4 separate regions of the Homo sapiens genome follow, and all the other regions are linked to region 4. Evidence: fine-mapped expression QTL. A gene starts in region 4. Each other region holds a variant in brackets. All regions are shown on one strand. Distances are from middle to middle.

Region 1 (4,513 bases), 23 kb after region 4:
AGTTAAAAATGTACACTTAGTTAAGTATATTATTGAAGAGGAAAACATTTTTAATAAATTTCACGTAGCCTAAGTGTCTGGTGTCTATAAAGTCTACAGTAGTGTATAGTAATGTCCTAGGCCTTCACATTCACTCACCACTCACTCCCTGACTCACCCGGAGCAACTTCCAGTCCTGCAAGCTCCATTCATAGTAAGTGCCCTGTACAGGTGAACCATTTTCTCTTCTTTTTTTTTTTTATTTTAAGTTCTGGGATACATGTGCAGAACATGCAGGTTTGTTACATAGGTATATATGTGCACACATATGTTTCTTGCAGCACTATTTACAATAGCAAAGACTGGAACCAACCCAAATGCCCATCAGTGATAGACTGGATAAAGCAAATGTGGCACATATACACCATGGAATACTATGCAGCCATAAAAAAGAACAAGATCATGTCCTTTGCAGGGACATGGATGAAGCTGGAAGCCATCATGTTTTGTCTTTTGTACAGTATTTTTACTACACCTTTTCTATGTTGCGATACACAAATACTCACCATTGTGTTGCAATTGCTTCCAGCATTCGGCACAGTCACCTGCTGCGTGAGTTTACAGCCTGGGAGCAACAGGCTCTCCCATAGAGCCTAGGTGTGTGGCAGGCTGCACCATCTAGGTGTGTGTAAGTACATGCTACGATGTTTGCACAACAACAAAATCACCTAACGACGGGTTTTTCCTAATGTATTCCTGTCACTAAGTCGTGACTGTGTTTGTAAATCCCATTTCACCAGCCGGTGCATACATGCATTTCTTTTATCCCCCTACCAACGCCAAAACACACCTACATTTGGCATTTGTTTTCCTCTGCTAATGGCTGCACAAAGGAAAAGTCTTTTCTTTTCAGTTTGCTCACTGATGCTGCTGCTGTGTCCCCATAGGAAAGCAGGGGTCCCACCGGGCGGGTCAGAGGGGACCAGTCTCTGGTTTCCTGAGCTCCCTGCAGCCATGGCTCCAAGCTCCGCACCGCACAGGTGATCCCACCCATCCTGGGCCCCAGTTTGGAGAAACTGTCACAACCATTGAGGAGAATTAGGAGAGACACAATAAGCATGCCTATGAGTGTGGCATACATAAAAAGTCTAGAAGGACACTCAATAAACTCAATAAACAGCCTTAGTGGTCGATCTCTGCAGAGGGGGCCAGAGAGCTGGGAGCTCAGAAACATGATGAACCAAAGCAGACACTTCCCCGTGCCATTTCTGGGAGGGCTGATTGGTGACACTTTTTTGGGTCACAGTTTGGTAATAATTAGCAACATTTAAGTACACATAATTCCATCTTAAGAAATTAATCCCAAGGGACTCCACAGATGCCAGTCCAGGACAATGAACAATGGCATACCCCATGGCACTGCTGGCATCCTAGAGTCTAAGCACATTGCGGCTCCTCCATGCCATGGGCACCACCGACGGGCCTGCCAGCCTGCCCCTGCTGACAAAGATTTGCAAAGGTATTTCAAACGAAAAAAGCAAAACCCTGAAGGGTGTGTATAATGCGATCCTCTATGTATTTTTCTAAGCACAAACCTGAATATTACGCGTAGAGGGCATCTGGTCTGCCTGGGAGGATGTCCATGGTTAAAAACACTGAGGCTGGGTCTGGAAGCTCTGCACCATTCACATTTTTCACCATGAAAAACAAGTGTGCGAAACAGCAGTGTTAAGTACGCTATCTGCTTTTGCTCGCTGCACAAAAATAACATTTGTACAAACAAAAGACTATTTAAGCTTAACAAGAGCAGCAATAAAAAACAGGTCCAAATCGATCCTGTGTATGCCCAGTTTCTGTAATGGAGGGCTCTGTGCTGAGTAAGCTCTCTGGTTTCACACTGTGCACAGTTAATAAATGGTTATTAATAATAGCAATGATAATGGCCTCCACGTGCTACTGAAATGCAATTAGTTTCACAGTGGAGCATGCTACACATCTGAGGATGAACATTCAATTTTCACTCACATCCCAAACTTTTAAGTGGTCAGACCAACAGTTTGCATAAAAGGCCCTCCTGTGTGTTGCACTGTGTCTTAATTTCATAACTCGACCGCACCCCGGGCCCCAGCTGCTGCTTTTGATTAAATCAGTGGACGACTGTATTAACATCCCTTTGGGACTCTGACACTCCAGGCTGCATGTGGCTGCAAATTAATAAATGCTGGGGCACAAAGAGACTGCCCAGAGGGCACCTTAAAATACGTGCCTCTTCCCCTAACATATCTTGGGAGAAAAAGAAGCGTCCCTGGAGGGTTGATGGGGTGGACACGCAGAGTGAGCACGGGAGCGCAGGCAGGGAAGGGACCATCTCTTCCTCATCAGCAGCCCCTCTGCAGGCAGGTGGCTGAGAAAGGCACAGGAAAAGGGCTCAGGGCGTTTTCAAGAGGAAGGCTGGGCAGGAAGGAGAGGGGAGAGAGCTGGAAGGAGGAGGCAGGATGTGGCAGGCCCTGGGGCCGTCTTTGCATCGAGCCACCTCCCCCAACCTTGAGAAGAGGAACAGGAGGTTAGGAACAGATGATGGCCCATGAAAAGGTGAAAATAAACTAGCTGTGATGCGTT[A/C]AAGAGGGTGACGCCTACGAGTCCTGCAGCCACTGCAGGCAGAGGAGGCCCTGCTTCCCTGACCCATCTGCCTGCGGCTGCAGGTGGCACCTCACAGTGGCTGTGCCTCCCAGGACTCCAGCTTGAGACTCGGGAATCCTCCCACCTGGAGAATCGGGAAGACTCCTGCTTGCTTTTCCAGTCGGATTATTTACCTCGGTCCCGCCAGCATCTATGCCCTGACTTGAGACTACTCTAGGCAGAGGCGAAGGTGAGGCCAGCCAGGGAGGCAGCAGCCGTGGATGTGGGCAGGGCCATGGACGGACAAAGCAGCTCCTCTGCAGCTCCCGGACGCAACCTCTGGTGAGCACTGTCACCAACCATGCCATTCCTCAGCACTCCCAGAGGGAGCCTGCAGACAGCCCCGCGTGGATGGCTGCTGCTTCTTATTCCAAACTCTGTCTAGACTGAGGCGCAGTGCTGGGCCTTGCGCTCATCAGATAAACTAAACTTGAAAACTCACAATGACGCATCCGGGGTTTAAATTTACTTACATGAAATTCAATTTTTAGCCTTAAGTCACTCCTACAAAGTAAGTTTCTACAGGAAAGGGCCAACATGAGCACCCAGTGAATGGAAATCCAGGCCATCCTCATCCTGAAGGTGCCAGAGCAGGCCCCGCCGGCTGCCTGAGAGCTCCCATTCCTTGTCAGTCCCCTCTGCCCCTGCCTGCCTCAGTTCTCTGCCCCTGCCTGCCTCTGTTCTCTGCCCCTGCCTGCCTCAGTTCTCTGCCCCTGCCTGCCTCTGTTCTCTGCCCCTGCCTGCCTCAGTTCTCTGCCCCTGCCTGCCTCTGTTCTCTGCCCCTGCCTGCCTCTGTTCTAAGGACTGTAAGAGCTAAACCTAAGATCACTCGACTCCCTCGTAATCGGGGGCGGGGGGCCATGCGACAGTGTTCTTGTCCATGAGATGTGAGCAGAAGTCCATGAGAAAGACAGCCCTTCCAGAATAAAATGGCAAAGCTTCCACAGGAGAAATCTTTTTGCCCGTCGGCCTTTGCCCTCCCTCTATGTTATTCCTGCCTGGAATGCAAACGTGATGCCTGGAGGTGCAGCAGCCATCTTGTAATGTGAGGACAGAACCCATGCTGAGGATGGCAGAGCAGACAGGTGAGCCTGGGTCCTGGCTGATGCCTGTGAGGAGCTACTGCTGTCTGGGCAGACAGCTTAGCATTGCTGTTGCAGGAGAAAAATTAATTTCTATCTTTGCATCTCATTCTTAGCTGAACCTTTCCTAATTTGCAGCAAACCTACATGAAACAGTAAAGGACAATCACAGTTAAAATAAATACAACACATATGTGTAAATATACGTTTATAATTATTTTTGGTGCATATTTAAATTAAGGGAGAGAAGTTACGTAAAATTATTTTCAAAATTTTAAGGTATGATGGACATTATTATCCTGTATAAGATGGCTCACTCCTAAAAAAACCTGGAAAACTTCAACGATAGTGGAAAAACAGAGACGCTTTTTAATCCATCATGAAAAATCCTAGCACAAGCCCAAGTGGAAACACTATTCCCCAACAGAAATGCAAAGGCAGAAAAGCCCCCTGAAAGAGGGATCCTAGCAGTCAGCCTTCCTCCTACTGAAAGAGGGATCCTAGCAGTCAGCCTTCCTCCTACATGACTGCCTTAATTGTTGGGCAGTAAATGGCTTTGTAGAATGTAACGTGGTCACAAAACCCCAAGGAGCCAACTGCAGAAGGAGAGGCAAGCAGACCCAGTGCCAAGCAGAAGAGGGCAGGGCCATGAAGGAAAACCAAGGGACATGTGACCGCCTGAGCACCAGAGAAGCCCCAGCTACAACCGGTACTCAAGGGGCAGCCCCACCTCTCTGCTGCTTTGCTGATTCCTGATTCTGAGCAAAGGATGC
Region 2 (4,513 bases), 32 kb after region 4:
GAGTATGACTGGAGTGAAAATAAATAAATAAAAGCAAGGAAATGGGGTATTTAGGAGACTTAGTGATGGCAATGATACCAGGGCAGGGGAAGAGGGAGGGACAGAAAGGAGGCAAAGATGATATGACCAGCTGAAAGTTCATGCCACTTTCTGAGGCAGACACAGAGGGAGACTTGGGTAGGAAACGTATCTGTGTAATTTTAGAGACACTGAGTTGGAGGTTCCTGGGGAATAGCAGAGGGGGAAAAAAATGGAAGTTGGGTTACAGAAGTGTAGGACTCATTTAGGCTGGGCTATAAACCTGGAATCTCAGCACAGGATGGTAACCGGTGCCAGGGAATAGATGAGCTTGTCCAGGGAGAGGGTGGGTAAGGAAAGATGCCTCGAGGAACCCAAACCTGAACCTCTGCTGGAGCATGCTGTTTAGAAGTCAAGGAAAGAGAGGGCTCTCCGGAAGCTGTGCTGGTTGGAATGGGGTCTGGATTCAGCATTTTAATAAGCTCCTTGGTGGTTCTGCCACGAGTAGGCAGAAGTCTGCCTTGGAGAAACTCATTCAGATGGAGCTTGGACAAGGCCGACCCTCAGCTAATGTTGACTGAATCAACGTGTTTTGTAATTATGTATTTGTCCGTCTTTCTGTATCAATACATACAGATCTTCATTCCTTCATTCATGTTAGTCATAGCACAGTTATCCAGCAAATGGATAAAGCACGATTTATCTAAGCCATTATTAATGGACATTCAAGTTATTGCTTGAATATAATGTAAAATTTATATAATGTAAAATTTATATAATGTAAAAATTAACACCTGCCTATTCTTCTGCTGGGTTTTCTTATTTGTGAAAGAGCTCTGCATAGTAGTCATGAAGTTCCTTGTGATATGTATAATAAGTATTACAACTGGGCTCAGTGGCTCACACTTATAATCTCAGCATTTTGGGAGGCCAAGGAGGGAGGACCACTTGAGGCCAGGAGATTGAGACTAGCCTGGGCAATATAGTGAAACCTGATCTTTACAAATGAAAATAAAAAACATTAGCTGGGCATGGTAGTGCACACCTATAGTCCCAGCTACTCAGGAGGCTGAGGTGGGAGGATCCCTTGAGCCCAGGAATTTAAGATTACAGTGAGCTATGATTGTGCCACTGCACTCCAACCTGGGCCAGAGTGAGTCCCTGTCTCTATTTTTAAAAAAAAAAAAAAAAAAAAGAACTTTCTTAGCTTTTTTGCCTTTTGAGTTTATGGTGTTTTTAGCCTTATGTTATTTATTTTTTTCTAACAGCTATACAGCCAAATGTATCGATCTTTTCCTTTGTAACTTCTTAGGTTTGTGATACATTTAAAAAGTTTAAGAAGTGGTACACCTGCCACCTAACGTCACCTGAGTCTTGACAGAACCAAGGACTGTATATTGTCGAACTCCCTTGGGGCAATGGCACCTCTGTCACTTGGACAGATGGGTCACTTCTGTGCAGGTGAGTGGCAGGAAACACAGCAGGCTCACCTGGCTATACAGGGTAAACATGTGACCTCGTTTGTAGCCAGCACCTGTATTGTCACTGACTGTAGAAATATTTTAATGAGGCACTCATATATATTTGATAGGATTCAAAAAATGGAAATAAAAAAAGAACACAGAAAACTGATAAACTACTCAGTGACATTACTGATACTCCCCAAAGATGAGCGCTTCCCCTTGTACCTAACACCTGGTTATTTCAGGACTTGAGCACAATAGAGACAGATGGTATCACAATCCTAATCAAGTGTAACTCCAACAGCTCAACTTCCAGGAATTTACCCTAAATAACAATTGAACAAGTGGAAGATGTATGGTCAAAGATAATAACTTCATATTAGTGAAGAACTGGGAAGCACACAGGTACCCAATGGGAGCTGATAAACTAAGCCCAGGAGAGCCACAGTCTTGTGACGTGGCAGGCACAGGCCCAGCTCTCCCATTCGTTAGCTGGGTGACCTGAGCAGGCGCCTCAGGTCCCTCATCTGTAAACCTCACCGATTTACTGTGGGAATTGAGGCAATGCATGGAAAGTGCTTAACCTGTGTCCAGCATGTAAATAACAACACATCTGCTGTTAGCACATTAATGGAACGCTAAATATTAAAATTATGTGAGAGGAAGTTTGAGTTGCCCAGATTTCATGGCATCCTGTTAAAAGAATAAAGGTTACCAACTCATGTGCATAGTAATAATTCCACATCTAGTTGTTCAGTGTGTGTGCACATCTGTGCAAGAGGAGAACATCTAGATGGATGAAAATCACAATAGTAACAATTTGGGCAGAAATGTGGAGATTTTTGTAGCTCTATTTTTCAGTTTTCTGTAATGAACCCTTCTGATTGTACACCCAAAAAGATAAAGAATGTTCTAGTTCTGTGTAAAGGTGGGGCTTAATTTTCGCTTTTTCATTCTGACCCACAGAGGCAGCACAGATTATCTAGAACAGTGACACAGGCTCAGGCCCTGTTTGAGTCCATACCTGCCTCGTGGTGGTTCAGCGGTGTCCTTGGGCATAACAAAAATCAGTAGGCCCTGGGGCTGTTTGCCCGATCTGTGTCTGCAGGAAGAAAGGGGTGG[G/T]GAAGAAGAGGTCAGAAGCAAAGCAGGGATTGGAACGAACTGGGTGGCAATGGGCAGGGGTGATGTGAAGCAGCTGATCGAAATGGCTGATACCGTCCCAGGATGACTCTCGCAATCATTCTTTTAACCAAAATGAGGTCTTTGAGAAGAAGGGATGAAGGGCCAGCCAGGTGTGTGCACCTGAACCCAAGCTCCTCCGGGTGGAGAGCTCTGGAAGGCAGTGTCAGTGACAGTCACAGCATGCCTCGCCGAGTGTCAAACGCGGCCTGGAACCCTCCAGTCCTCTCACACTGACATCAATTCCGAGCTAAGTAGATTCCTCAGCATTTCAGGAGATTTGAAAGTGATGGGCACTTGTGACTAACAGTAATGGCAGGTGGGGTGGAATTAAGGGGCATGTGGCCTGTCACAGTGTCGAGGGGCTCCAACACCTCTTCATTGCCTGGGGACCCACTGTGGTGGTGTCATCAGACACACTGATGAAAGTTAGGAGTTCCAAGGCAGTGCATCCATATACCCAAACTTTTACTCAAAAAAAGACTGGTGAATATTCCAGAATAATGTGTGACAGCTACACCGCCCCTGCTGGGCCTAGGTCAGCAGACTTGTCATGCTGTGGGCTACCAGATACGCATCTCTAGCTGACAGTCACCCTCTCTTCCCAAGGCTCAGACATCAAGATTAAAACAGCTTGAGGCCACCCGATTAACTCAGTCCCAGGATATGTAGAACAGCCCCTACTGCCGGCACATCCTCCATGTTTCAGAGCCCAGGAAGAGGGGACTGTGGACACTTTGGACCCACCCAGAACCAGCACAGAGGGAGGCGAAGCTGCAGGGCTTCGGGCACGTTAAGCCCTGGTGCCCCAGCTTCAACATCAGTAATATAAAGAAAGCCGGACCTCACAGGGCTGGTGAGGGCCAGGTGAGTTGATGCAGGTGAAGTGTGTGGGAAGAGCCCAGCGAGCCGCGTGCCCACATGGCCCTCGTGCAGCAGCCAATAGTCAGCATCCTGATGCCAGAAAAACAAGGCGGAACAGCGATTCAGGCACCCGAACCTGCCAGCAGGGGCCTCCTCTACTCTAGCAGAAATTCTTCCCCTTGGTAGCAGTAGGAGTCCTTTTCTGGTGCTGTTTTGGAGAGAACAGAACTGCTAGCGAGGGACCAGCTTCCTAAGGGGCCTGGCCCCTGACTCTTGGTAAATACGACCCTCCTGGGGAGTATTCTGGACTGAGTTGCATCCCTCCAAAACTCCAGTGTCAAAGCCCTAACCTCAGGACCTGAGAATGCAACTGTATTTGGAGACAGGTTCTTCAAAGAAGTAAGTTAAAAATGGGTCCTTCGGGTGGGTCCTAATACCATCTAACTGCTGTTCTTAGATTCTAAAGAGGTTAGGACACACAGAAGAGACACCAGGGCTGTGACACACACAGAGGAACGACCACGTGAGGTCAAAGTAAGCAGGTCTGCAAGCCAGGGAGGCCTCGGGAGAAACCCACTCTGCAGGCACCGTGAGCTTGTACTTCCAGCCTCCAGAACTGTGGGAAAATACATGTTTGTTGTTCAAACCACCCAGAATGTGGTGTTTTATTCCGGCAGCCCTGGCTAGGATCGAGGCTGGTTCAGGATCGCTCGTAGGAGGCAAATTAACACAGATTCCCAGGGCCCATCCTAAAGCCTGAGGCTCAACACGTCTGAACTGGGGCCCTACCTTAATAACAAGCCTGCCCAGGCCATTCGGACACAGGGGTCTATAGGTCAACCTCCGCACAGGCCGCACTAGGGCCTCAACTCCAAGGGTGGCCCACAGATCACAGAAACAGCACCACCTGCAGTTCATGAAAAATGCAGTTTGCAAGGCCCAACGGACGTGTGAATCCGAACCTGCAGGTTCACAGAATCCCCTCAGGA
Region 3 (4,513 bases), 55 kb after region 4:
GGTCTTGAACATGGGATGCCTGATTTTCCTTGCTTGGGGCCCTACATAAACGCCTCACTTTCTCTTGCTACTATCCCAACATCAGTCTTTGACTTCGCTGCACCCAGTGAACAGATCCCTGCTGGATTCACTTACATCAGATTTCTCCTCCTGGAAATAGAAGAAATGTGCCTATTGATGTGTGGAGCATCTCGCATGGCACCTGGAATGTAGAAGGCATTTGGTAAACGTGGCTTCCTTCTATCAGTTTCTACCCAAAATGTGCAAAGCCAAGCTTTCCTTTTTGTGCTGTATACTGGCTCCTTCTTCCAAAAATGTATTTGATGATGTCATTCCTCAACCTAAAACCTCCTGACATCACCCCGCTGTCTACACCAGGGATGTTAAAATCCTCTCTCTGCATAGCCCCATCCCCATGACCATGTACTCACTCTATTACCCCAATTCTCTGGGTGAGGCAGGAGGAGAGGAGTGGGTGCATGTGCCCCTGGCAGAGGGAAAGGATTCTCGGAGGGGTGAGACAAGTAGTGTGAAAAGAGTCGACCTCCAGGAAGCTGCTCTGCAGCCCTCATTTCTCCTTTGAGAATCGCTGGTCCTCAGAACAAGTTCTAAATCCTTACCACCTGATCTGATACCACCTTCCCACTGACCAGTGCCCTACAGCCTCATGGGACCCTCACCAATCCCGCCTCTTTGCCTTTGCTGGTTTCTTTTCTCTGCTTTAAAGTCTTCTTCCATACCTTCTGCTTTACTTGGGGAAATCTGAAATAAATGTCAGCATGTTGGTGAAGCTTTTGCTTACTGCCTCAGGCAGAATTAATAGCTTCCTGGTCAGCTCTGACACATCTGGGCCCTGTTCCCTCCTCAGAGGTAGAGAATCTGCTAGAGGCTGAGAACCGTCTCCACCTTTAGACAGAATGCGTTTAGTGGTTACTGCCTGCATCCCAATGAAACCTGCTCTGCCCTTCTGCCATAGAAATGGAATTGAAGCCAGACCCATTGCTACCCACTGTCTGTGTTTCCCGTTGGTATGGTTTGGCTGTGTCTTCCCACCATTCTCATCTTGGATTGTAGTTCCCATAATCCCCACGTGTCATGAGAGGGACTCGGTGGGAGGTAATTGAATCATGGGGGCAGTTTTCCCCATGCTATTCTCATGATGGTAAGTTCTCATGAGATCTGATGGTTTTATAAGGGGCTTCCCCCATCACTCGATTCTCATTCTTCTCTCTCCTGCTGTCTTGTGAAGAAGGATGTATTTGTGTCCCCTTCTGCCATGATTATAAGTTTCCCAAGGCCTCCCCAGACCTGTGGAACTGCGAGTCAATTAAACCTCTTTCCCTTATAAATTGCCCAGTCTCAGGTATGTCCTTATAGCAGTGTGAGAACAGACTAACACACCCAGGCTTCCCTGAAGTGAGCTGTGGCCTTTGCACTAAGGGATGGGAGCAGGAATGATGGGTATCTGCTCGGGGTGGGAACATGAGGCATCAGGTGCATCTTCTTCAGGCTGTCCCTGATGTGCTGGTGATTGGTCCCACCAGGCAGGTGACAGTACCCCAGAGCAGTGGAACACTCTGAGATAATAGAAGTGTTTTGAGATCTGTGCTGTCCAACACGCGAGCCACTAGACACTTGAGCTATGGCTAGTGCAACTAGGAACTGAAATTTCAATTGTCTTTAAATGTATTTAAATTAATTAAAATTAAAATAGTCACATGTCACCAGCGGCAACTGTATCAGCCAGTAGAGCCCCTGAGGATGGAGGAGCAATGGTTTGGAAGGAACATGGATCTTAGAATGCCCAGTGGAGCAGAGATTCTCCACCTAAATGGATTACTTATCTCAGAACAGTTGAGTGAGAGAAAAACAAGGCAATGTTTTAGGACAGTTAGGAAGATAGTATCAATAGTATGACATAATGGGTATATCAGGGACTTGGGGCTCACCTTTTGAGTTCAAATCCTAGCCCTACCACTTAATAACTGTATGGCCTTGGGCAAATGACTTCATTTCCGTGTGCCCCAGAATTCTCCTCACTGCACTGGGGACACTGAGTCCACGTATCACCTGGGTTTGTTGTGAGAATCAAATGAAGTAATAAATGTAAAACACTTAGAATATGGCATCCCCATTTGTTAGCTACTGTGATGACATTTGAGGTCTCTGTTACAGCATCTTAGCTTTGCACGAATGCACCTGGCTTTGCATCACGGCTCCCACATCTACCACTCGGGTGCCATTTGTTTTCTCAGGTTCTTGGGGGTGATGCGAGTGAAGTACTGAGTGCTGTGTCTGGCCCCCATCAAGCACTCAATGTTGGTAGTCACCCTTATATAAAGTGTCATGTTGTCATATCAGTATCTGTTTGGATGTCTCCCTTGGAGGTGTCTCTAGGATAGGGACTGTCATTTCTCTTTTTGTTCTTCATTGATTAGCACAGTGAAGGTACTCGGTACATGGTTACTGAATGATTGGCTGATTGCATAAATAACTCTTCTAGTGTTAGTTTACCTGAAAACCCAATACT[G/A]TACCTATTGAGGCTTCTGAGGTGTCCCCTGGCCATCAAATCCCTATGGTACTCTAACAGCAGCATGGCCAAACAAAGGCATTCTGTCCCTGCTGCCCAGATCCTTCCTCACCCTTTACCTTTGCAACACTGAGCGGAACGGCTCTTCACGGGGATGGCCACTCACCCAGGCATCATTAGGAAAGGTGAGGGGGTGTTTTTCGGTGTCACAACACCTGGATAACTGTGTTCTCCAGCTTCCTCTTGCTGCTGTAGCAAATTACTGCAAATGCAGTGGCTTAAACAACACACACTCAGTCCATAAATTCTGAAGGTGAGAACTCTGAAGTGAGTGTCATGGGACTAAAATCAAGCTGTTTGCAAAGCTGCACTCCTTCTGGGGGCTGCGGGGAGAATTGGCTTCCTGCCTTTCCCAGCTTCTGGGAGCTGCTGCATTCCTTGGCTCCCGGCCCCTCCTCCATCCACAAAGCTAGAAATCCCATCACTCTAGCCTCTCCTTCTGTCCTCACATCTCTCTCTCTCTCTCTGACTTTGCCTCTCCTGCCTTCCCCTTGCTTTCTAAGGGTCCTTGGCATGTTGTGTTACATTGTGCCCACCTGCATAATCCAAAATAACCTCCTGATGTGGTTTGGCTATGGCCCTACCCAAATCTCATGTCAAATTTTAACCCCCATATGTTAAGGGAAGAACCTGGTATGAAGTGATTGGATCATGGGGGCAGATTTTCCCCTTGCTGGTCTCATTGATAGTGAGTGAGTGAGTTCTCACAAGATCTGATGGTTTAAAAGTGTGTAGCCCTTCCCCCTCCCTCTCTCTCTCCTGCCACCATGTGAAGATGGTCCTTGCATCCCCTTCACCTTCTACCATGAGTGTAAGTTTCCTAAGGCCTCCAAGTCATGCTTCGTGTCAAGCCTGCAGAACCATGAGCCCGTTAAACCTCTTTTCTTCACAAATTACCTAGTCTCAGGCAGTTCTTTACAGCGGTGTGAAGACAGACGACTACACCTCCTTATTGTAAAGTCGACTGATTACAACCTTAATCCCACTCAGTGCCTTAACTGTCCTGGCCATGGAACCCAACACACTCACAGGCTCTGAAGAGAAGGACATCTTTGCTGGCTGGTAGGGAGGGATTCTTCTGCCCACCAAAGTAACTCTGTGGGCACAGGGTAGGTTGGAGCCTGGGGACACCACACACCATGAGACACTCCTACACAACAGAGTGTACCCCTCAAATGCCAATAGTGCCCTCTTGAGAAATGCAGCTGGAGTCCCACTACTCTAAGCTGCTTTGTGTGTGGTGAGGAATAAAAGGACAGGGGAGCTTTGCTTTTCATCTCAAGTTTCCCTCTAAATCTGTAATTGCAGCCTCCAAAAAAGAAAGAGAAACCAACTTCTCTTGCTTCTTGTAAGAGGAAGAGAAAGAGAAATGAGAGAGACACCTGTGCAGGTACTCAGAGACCAGTGCAGCCCTTCTCCCATGCAGAGACCAGAAGCTCAGCTTACAATTACCAGCCTTCCTGCATGAGTGTGCAGGTAAGGAGGCCCCACCTGTCAGAAGCAGTCCTGCAGGACATTGACTTGAAATTGAGCCCAGTGGGGGAAAGGTGGGTGCCTGTGTCCTCCATACTGATGATGCAGACCAGAGTCGGGAGACAGAGCTTGAGAGTCACAGGTGGCTTCCACATGTTCACCCATGTCTGCTGCAGAGATCTAGGCTTCTCTAGCAAGGCATAAAAGGGGCTGCAGGTAACTAGAGCTGTGTCCAAGGTGTCCAGAGGTTTCCAAGCACTTAGTTCTTTGCACTCAGTTGCTCTCTGCGACTCCAGTTGTTAGACATTCATACTGAATGCTCAAAGATACAAGGTCCCCCCAGAAGACATCGACAGGATGGCACCTACTTCTGCACCTGTACCCACTGGCATCTGTAAGAAACACAGAATGGAGAATTGGAGAACTGGAGGCTATGATAAATGACATCAG
Region 4 (4,513 bases):
AACCAGTCAGTCCACACGGCCTTTCCACCTGGTAGCTGCCATTTCCATCCAGGCCCTGGAATTCATGAGGTTACCCTTTGGAGAATGCTGCATTCAACCTACCCACTCCCTTTACAGATTGGACAAACCCCCTTGACACCGTACCTCCGTGTGAACATCACACAGCAATTCATGGAAAGCGTGCACCCATTAGCAGGATGGGAGAGGCTGGAAACCAGCCCTGGCACATTCAAGATGCCCTCCTATGGGAGGAAGAATTGCAACAGCATTTTGTGCTCTGAATGCCCAGTCTATAGGAAGATGAACAGAATGTGCACTAAATATTTAGGCATCTGAGCTGTGGTAGCTCATGGCAGGAAGCCACGCTCACCTCCCAGGACCTGATTCTGCCATAATACACTGTCCCAGAACCACTATAGATCACCTCACCACTGGCTGAGGAAGACAAAGACAGGAGCTGAGTGTAGATGGGCAGCAGGCTCATCCTTGTCTCCCTTCTGCTGGCTGATGCACACCTTGTCCAGCTTGCTTAAGACACATGCTCCAACACCTGTCATTGTCAGGCATTAGATTCGTGGCCATGCCTGCTGTGCCCACCAAGCTGCCAGCACCACATGGCTGCTGCTCACTGGTGTGCGGTGTGTGCCCAGCCTGAGGGCCAGGCGAGCTCAGGACACAGACCTCCCAGTGCCAGCACATAGGAAGGCCCTGGTAGCTGGCCAGGGAGGCCTAAGCTCACTTCAGTCATCAGACACGAAGTTCCATTCTCTAAGGATATCATCTGGGAGGAGGTGAAGCCTTTCTGTCTTGAAGGTTGGGTCTACCTCCAGGTGTGAAGGAAGGACATTTCATATACAGGGGAAAGAGGTATTGGCCAAGAAATATGGAGCCCAGATTCAAAGGGGGACAGAGACCCCATCTCTTGATGGAAGGAGGGTCAAGGAATTTTAGAAACTTATTTTCCCCAAACTTCTAGAGTTGTTGACACCAGTTGTTTATTTGTCACATTGCTTATTTATTCACTTACTTATTCTTTAAAAGTTATTTTAAGCATAATTAAAGATATAATTCATCTCAGACTATTATCACGAGATTATTGTCTTATTATTACCTTCCACACTCCAAAGCCACCACCCTTGGATGACATAAATATCCAATGACTATTTATCAGAACCATAGGCATTTTTATCTACCTGTCACCTTGCAGGGTCAACATTTACAAACACGTCGTTATTACAGGAACACAGAATAAGATAATGATCTTATTATCAAGACCACAGATAATAATCGTGGCTCGTTGAAGCCCTTTGAACCCAACAGCTGTGGGCCCATCTGGAGCTAGTGGCCTTACTTCTCTAGATCAGATTTGCACACTTTGAAAACTGCAGCAGTTAGGAAGCTGCAGCATCCCACAGGGGGAAGCAGCTCAACAGCCAGAGCTGGGCTGAGAAGCGGGTATCTGGAAGCTTGCTCCTTAATGCCTCCTGAGGAAGCGCTGGGCACACACCTGGCACAGCCCACATGCAAGAGTTAGCACCACCCGCACACATAGTGCTCAGCTGTTCCTTTGGCAGCACTGTTGTTAGCAATGTGTGACCGCATTGGGAGGGGGTCTGAGTACCATGGAGGTGACTGAGATGCTCTGTACCTCTGTTACTTAGCACAGTGCAGGGCAGGAAGCAGGAAACTCAACAGATGTCTATTCAATGATTGATGGGCAGCTGCCAAGCAACTTCCAGAGTAGGGGGTCCCATGATGCAGATCCCTCCTCCCCACCCACTCCATGTCAGCCTTATTTCAGGCCTCACAACATCCCACTTGAAATATTAACTGAGCTCTTGGCCTCAGTCATCGTGTTCTCCTGTCACCACTGCACCATCTCAAAGTGGCCCTTCCTACCCCACTAGGCTTCCCACTGCCCCGCACACAGCCAAAGCCCTGCCCTCACAGCCTGGCCCTCCAGATGTCTGCAGCCTGGGCCCCATCTGTCTTCAGACTTCGCTTCCCATAAAGTTTCCTCATCTGGCTTTTGGTTTTGTTTCACAAATAAGCCACACACACATGCACACACAAAGAGGTACATGCACACACAAAGAGGTACATGCACACATGTGCAAACATCTGTGACCACAGACCCAGATGCCAGCACACACGTGCACACACACTCATGCTTCCAGGTGCAAATACACATACATACACACACACACACACACACACACCAGCTCCATACTTTAAACCTCTTTCCCCTGTATATGAAATGTCCTTCCTTCACACCTGGAGGTAGACCCAACCTTCAAGACAGAAAGGCTCCACCTCCTCCCAGATGATCTTCTTCCCAAGTTGCAATTGAGTTCTCCCTCCCCATTTCTCTATACAGCGGCAACAGACTCACCATCACGATACCATTGCCGTCTTCTCTCAATGCAGGTGCCGTCCATGCTGTGAGTCCCTGGAGAGCAGCAGGGATACTTTTTACAGCTTTTTCGATGCTCACTTACGGCCCCCAGCAGAGAGCACCTCAGCAGGTGCTCCAAGAACGATGTTGCCTTGGAAAGGTAGCGAGGCCCTGAAACACAGAGAATAAGGGCAAAGTCTGGGCTGCTCTCAGAGCCTCAGGGCCCTGCCACCCCAAAGTCCTAGGACAGGGAGCGTGTCCTCTAACTTTTCTCTCTCCCTGCACTTTATCTCCACCAGGAATTCTCAACCTTTTTTGTTCTAATAGAGCTCTCTTCAACCGCCTGAAAAAGTTCCTAATCCTTTTATAAAATATTGTCTTAAAATGCACATAATAGGCTGGGCACAGTGGCTCCTGCCTGTAATCCCAACACTATGGGAAGCCGAGGCAGGTGGATCACTTGATGTCAGGAATTCGAGACCAGCCTGGCCAATATGGTGAAACCCCGTCTCTACTAAAAATACAAAAATAAGCCAGGCATGGTGGTGCACGCCTGTAATCCCAGCTACTCAGGAGGCTGAGGCAAGGAGAATCACTTGAACCAGGGAGGCGGAGGTTGCAGTGAGCGGAGATCATGCCATTGAACTCCAGCCTGGGCAACAGAGTGAGACTCCATCTCAAAAAAAAAAAAAAAAGAAATGCACAAAATAAATATTACAAAGGGCCTGAGTGATGCTGAAATCCAGCTCTGCGTTCACACTTGAGTTGGGGGATGGCAGGTTCCCCAGCACCGTGTGCTCCCAGGTTCCCAGCAAATGTGAGCTCACTCTCCCTGGAGCCCTTGCCCTGGGTCCTGATCACCAGCCCCCTCTGGTTGATCTTCCCTCAGGTAGGAAGTAGCCCTGAGGAGGGGGAGCACAGAGGAGTTGTGGGCAGGGGTGCAGAAGGAGAAAATATGTTGAGGACAACAGCATCAGAGGCCAAAGGCAGACTCTGGCTGCTGGTCTGCACAGACCACCATCTATGGGTTGCAGAATCTGGGTGGACACGTAAGGAGAGGAGGGAAAAGAGAGAGAAAAAAAAAACTGTCACAGGCAAGCACAAAGAGTAGCTGCCCTCAATTAGGGCTAGTAAAGAATTGTTCCCACTGCACGGGGTTTTCCAACTGCAATCTTTGGGCTTGTGAAGCATTTTCTCTGCATCTGTTGTTGATGCCATTAAGTAGAATGAGTCACTGTATATATTAAGCACTAAGACCAGCAGCGACATAAGTCTATGAATTCAATGATCATGCCAGCTTTAAGTAGAAAAGGAGCTTTTTTTTTTTTATTAAACCAGTGGCAAAGCAGAGGAAATCAAGTAATTTTTACATTATAAGATTTTTGCTTTTTTTTATACTGTGTCTATTTCCTTTTAATGACAGTTATCAAAAGTCACTTTTGGGAAAAGGCTTTGAAATTGAATAGAAAAATCTCATGCATTTACTTTTCCTGTTTTTCTGAAATTCAAATAAGATGTGAGCGACAGGCGCTGAGTGCTCCAGCCCCCATGCTCAGCAATCGCAAGCTTTCTTCAGACCTCTCTTTGCAAGCTCGGGAGGAGACCAGAGAGGTTCCTTAGGAGGATCCCTGGCTGGAATCTAGGCCAGGAAGCCAACAGCAAAATGTGTTTGGGGTGAGCATCTGTGTTTGGGGCCTTCTGGCATGGTAACACTCTGACCTGGGGTGTTCGACATCACTTGTGCTCTCAGCACAGCTTCCAGAACAAGCCAATGGCCCCAACAAAGGACAAAGGGTCCAGAACCATGTGACCAGAAAAGGAAGACAGCCAGGTGTATTTGACAGCTCCCAGAATGACCTGGCCAGACACTCAGAAGGCCACGGAAGCTTCGCTCAGGCATGCTGCCAGTGTGTGTTTATGTCCCAAACCCTCACACAGCATTTGCTACCTGACTGGCCTTTGGCAAAGGGCTTTAGAGATGTTCCCCCAAGTCCCACATGGCACAGAGGGCAGGTGCGCATGCTGTGACAATTTCACAGGTGAGGAAAGGGAGGCCCAGGGAGCTTACAGAGCTCATGAGAGGTGCAGCCAGGATGTGAGCCCAGCCAGCTGGCCCCA

The links. PIP is the estimated chance that this variant, and not a neighbour inherited with it, causes the effect. A credible set is the group of variants that fine-mapping cannot tell apart.
Region 1: its variant is the best candidate, but not a certain one, in a credible set for the expression of LINC02145 in caudate (GTEx, PIP 0.67).
Region 2: its variant is the best candidate, but not a certain one, in a credible set for the expression of LINC02145 in testis (GTEx, PIP 0.82).
Region 3: its variant is the best candidate, but not a certain one, in a credible set for the expression of LINC02145 in thyroid (GTEx, PIP 0.52).

The regions. Positions count from the first base shown.
Region 1 is chr5:6,357,624-6,362,136 of GRCh38, forward strand. No RefSeq gene overlaps it. Among named protein-coding and RNA genes, the nearest start is that of MED10, 19 kb to the right of the region's middle. The variant A/C (reference allele first, on the strand shown) is at 2,599.
Region 2 is chr5:6,367,167-6,371,679 of GRCh38, forward strand. No RefSeq gene overlaps it. Among named protein-coding and RNA genes, the nearest start is that of MED10, 9.1 kb to the right of the region's middle. RefSeq lists a silencer at 251-418. The variant G/T (reference allele first, on the strand shown) is at 2,604.
Region 3 is chr5:6,389,809-6,394,321 of GRCh38, forward strand. No RefSeq gene overlaps it. Among named protein-coding and RNA genes, the nearest start is that of MED10, 14 kb to the left of the region's middle. The variant G/A (reference allele first, on the strand shown) is at 2,531.
Region 4 is chr5:6,334,758-6,339,270 of GRCh38, forward strand. It overlaps LINC02145 (long intergenic non-protein coding RNA 2145), which reads right to left and starts at 2,535. Exons shown (of 2, transcript NR_028351.1): 1 at 2,393-2,535.